Linked DNA regions of Homo sapiens. The protein of the gene in region 2 purifies or fractionates together with the protein of the main gene of each other region. This does not show direct contact. Each region holds a gene or a part of one and is shown on either strand. Other genes may lie near its edges.

Region 1 (3,515 bases), on a different chromosome or scaffold from region 2:
TTACCCCTTTTCTGAGCCTGCACATGTGCATGAGTACGCAGAGACTGCATTTGGTTTTGTTTTTAGAAAATGGGATTTATATATATATATACAATTTGTTTTCATAATATATCACTTTCTAACATTATGCCATATTTATGTGTGGTAATCAATAAAATTTAAGTTTCTTGAGGGTGGGAACTGTAGCAACCATATCCATTTTCTCTTCATGACACCTCACATACTTCTCTGTACATGAGGATTCTCAGTAAATGCTCATAGGTTGACTATAGCAAATCTTTTTTACTCAGTTTTTATAAAATTGAGACAGCAATATAGAGGAATATCTTAAAGATAGTTTTTATGTGTTAAAGTAATGATTTGTTATCGTCCCTGTTCCACTAATATAGTAAGAATGAAAATAATTGCCTTTCATTTTATTTCAGAGTAATATCTGAGGAAATCACGGGAGCTCACTAGTATGGAAGTTATTGTAACTGCAAAACAAACTTTTTAGGAAATGAAGGATATTAACACATCTTTCGAGATTTATAGTCTAATGCCAAGTGAATTAGCCAAGAAGAAATAGAGCCACAATACTTGGAAATAGCTTGATTGAGAAGTTAAACATTTACTTAATCTCATCTTAGCTGATTAGAAAAAAAATCACTTTGATTTTAGGCAATATATGCTTATTAATGGTCTTTAGAAACTACCTAGTTGATCTGACCTAGAGAACAAACAGGGCTCTTTTTAGCTTATTGGAGTCCATACTTAAGTCGGAAGACCCAGAGTCAAGTTGCTGCCCTGTCATTGACTAGCTGTGCAATCCACTTACAGATTCCTGTGCCCTCCTATTTCATAGGGTTGTCTGAATTAGTTACATTAAAATGTTTTATAAATAATTAAGTGCTGGTCCATTGTAAGATACTATCATTATTTGCTTGAAGTAGTTAAGGGAATGAGACTCACCTAAACTCATATTTTTACCTAGGGATTATTTTTATAATGCATTTGTTGCTAGTTAGTTACAAGCATTAAATTAGTCACAGGCCAGGCGTGGTAGCTCACACCTGTAATTCCAGCATTTTGGGGGAGGTCTAGGTGTGAGTATACTTGAGGACAGGAGTTTGAGACCAGCCTGAACAGCATAGCAAGACCCCTTTCTACAAAAATAAAAAATCACCAGGTGCAGTGGCTCATTCCTGTAATCTCAGCACTTTGGGAGGCTGAGGCAGGTGGATCCCTTGAGGTCAACATGGTAAAACCCTGTCTCTACTAAAAATGCAAAAATTAGCCGGGCGTGTTGGTGCACACCTGTAATCCCAGCTACTCAGGAGGCTGAGGCAGGAGAGTTGCTTGAACTTGGGAGGAAGAGGTTGCAGTGAGCCAAGATTGCGCCACTGCACACTAGCCTGGGCAACAAAGCGAGACCTCTTTTCTAAATAAATAAGTAAATATTGCCACACATGTTGGCATGCGCCTCTGTAGTCCTAGCTACTCAGGAGGCTGAGGTGGGAGGATCTTTTGAGCCCAGGAGTTCTAGGCTGTATTGTGCTATGATCCCGCCAATGCATTCCTTGGATGACAGAGCAAGACTCTATCTCTAAAAATAATTAATAATTTAAGCATAAAATAGCATTTCAAAGTCACTTCTAGTTTAAATAGCAGCATGGAACAAAAACCGGGATAATAGGAGAACTGTCTTTATGCAGTTTATCCAGTAGGTGGAGGTATATATCTGTTATATGTTTGTTAGTATATGTTCACCTTCAGCCTGTTGAGAGAAAAATTATGAAAAGTACACAAGCAAAATATTTCCCCTAAGACTTGGCATGATCAATTTTGTTTTACTTTAAAAATAAAAATTAATATATTTAAATAGTTGGTAATTCCACAGGACTAGAGTTACTGATTTACTAATAGGATAAATTGTCTCACTGGATTTGAAACCTTTTACCCAAATGCCAAGTTAGCCCTCTTGTTAAGTTCTTAAATCATCTTAAAATCATTTCTATATTAAATATTTTTGTTTCATAAACTTTTGATAAAAATGTGCAGCATCTTAATATTTTTCCAAATTATGATTATTTTCTTAAAAATTGATCCTTATTATCATACTTTCCAGATGTAATTTAAGGCCTAGAGCAAAGAACAAAAACATGTTTAAGTGGAGAAATTTAGCCCTGACCTCTATTGATTTGAAGTACCAATTTTTTGTTGTTTTTTTAAAGATATTTCAAGGAAACAAAGATTATCACCAGGATGTGCGTAATAACTTTTTGCCACCAATTATTGCACGTTTTATTAGAGTGAATCCTACCCAATGGCAGCAGAAAATTGCCATGAAAATGGAGCTGCTCGGATGTCAGTTTATTCCTAAAGGTAAAGAGACAGTTCGTTTAAGATATGTTTTTACTGGATTGCCAATTTAAAATGGTTTTGCTGTTCTCAGAGAGAGTAATTAATAATGTGAGTGTCTTTCTGGTTAAACTCTAATTACAATATCTTCTTAAAGGGATGTTAAAAAAAATGGTTACCCTATTAAAAAGTTAGTTATAAGAATGGTTTCCAAAATTATAAGTGGAAGAAGAAATAGCATCATTCATAAGATAATGTAAATGAGATCACTTTCCAAATTTAATCTCAATCCTAATAATTTTAAATCAGGTGTCATGTACTGTAATATTTGTTTAACATAAGCATGAAAGATTGTAACAATACATTTAAAGCAAGAATAATTTATCTCAATATTATACATTTTAATATACTGTTTACTTTTGTACGCCCAAAGGCTACCACAGTGCCTGACACATCGTTGGCCCTCCATAAATAACTATTAAATGAATTGAATAAGTACTGTATCAAAATGTGGATGACTCCTTTATAGCTTTAGCATTCAACATCACTTTCCACCCCATTATTCTTCTTCCTAAGATTATTTTCAGATGATTTAATTATTTAAAAACTGAGAAATCCTGGCATATTTGTGCCTTTATTGCAGAGTATAATATTTATCCTTCCAATATATTTCTCTCTGAGAGTTAAAATTATTCTGCAGAATTAAATACTTTAGGAAATATTGAAGACATTTAGCATTACTATTTTTAATTATGATTTTTAAAAACAAAATGTTTAAATTTTTCTAAACCATTTTTCAAGGTCGTCCTCCAAAACTTACTCAACCTCCACCTCCTCGGAACAGCAATGACCTCAAAAACACTACAGCCCCTCCAAAAATAGCCAAAGGTATGCCTGTTTTTAATGTGAGAATTTGATATTCCTTGGATTTATGGTGCAACTTTCCAAAAATATATTAAAAGCATTATCAAATAAGTTTATGTTAATCAAGTTGGTACAGATTAAAAAGTAAAGAGCTTTTGAAACTTTTTTAAAGGTCGTGCCCCAAAATTTACGCAACCACTACAACCTCGCAGTAGCAATGAATTTCCTGCACAGACAGAACAAACAACTGCCAGTCCTGATATCAGAAATACTACCGTAACTCCAAATGTAACCAAAGGTATGCAAACATG
Region 2 (3,515 bases):
TGTGCACCCGGGGGCCCACGCTCACTGCCTTGTGGAGCCGGCCGTCACCTGGGGTGTGGACAGGACTCAGGCCCTGGGTGGAGCCCACTGCCCATGACCCACCAGCCACGTGCACCCCTTCCCCTGAGCCTGCTGGGCTGCAGACACTTACCAGTGCCCAGGAAGAGGACATCGTAGGTGTGGTGCAGGCCAGGGACGCGGTGTACAGCCACGCGCTGGTAGCGAGCCTGGGGCTGCAGCAGCAGCATGCGGCTTCGGACCTGCCCGTCCATCAGGAAGTGGTCCTTGAGGAAGTTCAGCACGCGGTCTGGGAGCTGCAGGGATGAGTTGATCTTCCTTTCCCGGGCACTGTTGGTGATGCACTGGAGGAGAAAGCAGCAGTGTGAGGCCAGCCACACCTCGGGGTGGCAGGCAGGATGCGGGCCCTGCTTCCCCAGTGGACAGTAGCGGTGTCTGTCCCCCCGCCCGGAGCCAGGGCACATCCCTGGCAGTGCTCTACAGAGCCAGTGTGCACATCTGAGGGAGCAAGGACAAAGCCCAGGGTGCGGGGAAACCGAGTGCTTGGAGGGCTTCCTTGCTGTGCCTCCTCCCTGCCCACCACCCCAGCCTCATATGCCCAGGGGCCTCAAGAACCAGGACCACACTCCCTGCTCCTCTGCACCCTTCACCAGTGCTCTCAGGAAGCCCTGGCCGGGCAGAGCGTCCCAGTGCAGTCGGCAGTTCTTTCCTGCCCCGCCTGAGGCTTCCTGAAATTCTGAGAGGTGCTCCACACCATCTGTCAGGGGCTCCAGCAGGACCCAGCTCCAGCTGCCCACAGCAACAACAGCGTGCTGACACACCCTCTTTTGGTTTCCCTCCCTCCTCCTCTCAACCTTCCTATTCCTTCATGCTGCTTCCTGGCATCACCTCCCTAATAAACTATTTGGCACGTATATCCTTGTCTCAAGGTCTGCTATCAGGGTAGCCCGTTAGGCTAGAAGGGAGGAAGAAAGGATTATTTCCCCACAGCTTGCCCATTCAGTCACTTGATAATTAAATAAGGAGCTTGCAGCTGAGTAGGGGAGAGGACCAAATGAAGAGATGATTGTAACAGCCTGCAGCAAGTGCCCTGATGGGGACACACTTGTATCCTGAAACAGAACTGAAGATATTCTGACATTCATACTTATATCTAACCCAGTACACAAGCAGGCCTGGGCCTATATCCCCATATTAAAGATGAGAAAAGAGATTCAGAGAAGCCAAGTGATCTGCCCGAGGCTAGGCAGCCTTGCTCCCAGCATGGTGTGGGGACCCACATCTTCCCGGCACCCCTTCTGGGTGCAGGGAGCCAGTACCCACCGCTCCAGGCCGGGGTGTGGGCACCGGGTGGGTCACGGTGTACCACTGCTGTGTCTCACGGTTCACCTCCTTGTAGAGGCCGCTGAAGACTCTCTGCACATCCTTCATTGTGAAGACACAGACGGCAGAGCCTTCTGTAGTTCCCCTGTGCCTGCAGAGGAAATAACCAGATTAACCCAGGAGCCCTGGGGGCCCCAGTCCCAGCCACCCTTCACCCTTCCATCTCCAGCGAGGTCTGGAGGCCCTACCACTGGGAAGTGAAGACCCCATAGAAAAGGGTGTCACGCCAGTCCTGGGGGCTGGGGCTCAGCGTGAAGACATCCTGCAGCACGTTGAAGGGGAAGCCATCGTCGGGCCGTGAGCACAGCAGCTGGGCCTTGAGGAAGGAGGTCCAGCGCTGCTGTAGCACCCGCTCTCCACCCTCATCGCCCTGGAGGGAGAGTCGGATGGGCTGGGCTTAGGCACATGCTGAGCCATGACGGGGATGCACGGCACAGGACTGCCTCAATGGACCCACCCCAGACACCAGGACTGAAGGGCAGGAGAAGGCCAGGACCAAGTTCCATCTAAAGTCAGGAAGAGCAGTGTACGCATCCATCAGGAGGATGGTCCTTACTGTAACTAAGCAGAGCCTTCCTAAATATGGACGCGATTCACTGCTGAGCAAACAAGGAAGCCAAAGGACCCCAATATAGCCTAATGCCATGTTCCTGAGTGAGTTAATAATATAAGTACAAGGTCGGGATGGTACTTATATTATTAATGCCTATAATTCCAGCACTTTGGGAGGCCAAGGCGGGTGGATCACTTGAGCTCAGGAGTTTGAGACCCTGTCTCTGCTAAAAATACAAAAAAATTAGCTGGGCATGGTGGTGCATGCTGGTAGTCCCAGCTACATGAGGGGCTGAGGTGAGAGGATTGCTTGAGATTGGGCAGCGGAGGTTGCAGTGAAATCTCACCGCTGCACACCAGCCTGGATGACAAAGTGAGACCCTGTCTCAAAAAGGAAAAAAAAAAATGTATATATATATATACACAGAGTTACACATATGCCAAAAAAAAAAAAAAAGATTTGGAGGGGGCATTCTAAAATGATACCAGTGACTCCTTCTTGTGCTGGGGTGGTGGGGTAATAACATTCATAGTTCACATTTAGTCACTGCCCACCACATTTCTAAGAGCTTTGCGTGGATTAATAATTCACATAACAACTCTGAGGTCAGTGTTATTCTTCCTATTTAACAGAAGAGGAAACTGTTAACCGAGGGGGTGAGGGACTTGCCCAAGATCCTAGGCCAGCAGGGTTTGAACTTGGGCAGTTGGCCTCCAGGGTCTGTGCTCTCCAGCTGATGCTACAGTGCCTCTTTAACTTGTAAGTGATTTTTGTGTGTACAGTTTTCTATTTTCACATTTTTTTTTTTGAGACAGTCTTGCTCTGTCACCCAGGCTGGAGTGCAGTGGCACCATCTCGGCTCACTGCAACCTCCACCTCCCAGGTTCAAGCGATTCTCTTGCCACAGCCTCCTGAGTAGCTAGGATTACAGGCGTGCACCACCACGCCCAGCTAACTTTTGTATTATTAGTAGAGATGGGGTTTTACCATGTTGGCCAGGTTGGTCTCAAACTCCTGACCTCAGGTGATCCACCCACCTTGGCCTCCCAAAGTGCTGGGATTACAGGCGTGAGCCACCATGCCCGGCTATTTTCACATTTTTTAAGTAAAAAAAAAAAAAAGAAAAGAAAAAAAATGGCTGGGTGCAGTGGCTCATGCCTGTAATCCCAGCACTTTGGGAAGCCGAGGTGGGTGGATTGTTTGAGCCCAGGAGTTTGAGACCAGCCCAGGCAACGTGGTAAAACCCCATCTCTACAAAAAATACAAAAATTAGCTGGGCATGGGGGCGCACACCTGTAGTCTCAGCTACTCGGGAGGCTGAGGTAGGAGAACTGCTTGAGCCCAGGAGGTCGAGGCTGCAGTGAACCGTGATCGTGCCACTGCACTCCAGCCTGGGTGACAGAGCAAAGATCCTGTCTAAAAATAAAAAGAAAAAAAAAAAAGAAAAAAGTAGTAAGATATTTTAATTTAAAAGGTGAGAGAGAAAAGCTGTTAGCCAAGCTGTACTCCTTGGCGGGATGGGAAAGGCCATGCATGGATGTGGGTGATCTTGCAGCTGTGG

The links. Proteins that work in one complex are often made in the same cells at the same time.
Region 1: the proteins of SEMA4B (region 2) and DCBLD2 purify together in Homo sapiens (affinity purification with western blotting, with the first as the bait; one study listed by BioGRID). This does not show direct contact.

Annotation. Positions count from the first base shown.
Region 1 is NC_000003.12:98,811,181-98,814,695, reverse strand, and holds part of DCBLD2 (discoidin, CUB and LCCL domain-containing protein 2 precursor), read left to right. Parts: intron 1-2,213; coding exon 2,214-2,364; intron 2,365-3,141; coding exon 3,142-3,228; intron 3,229-3,376; coding exon 3,377-3,502; intron 3,503-3,515.
Region 2 is NC_000015.10:90,221,815-90,225,329, reverse strand, and holds part of SEMA4B (semaphorin-4B isoform 1 precursor), read right to left. Parts: intron 1,772-3,515; coding exon 1,590-1,771; intron 1,493-1,589; coding exon 1,342-1,492; intron 363-1,341; coding exon 152-362; intron 49-151; coding exon 1-48. UniProt on the Homo sapiens protein: Inhibits axonal extension by providing local signals to specify territories inaccessible for growing axons.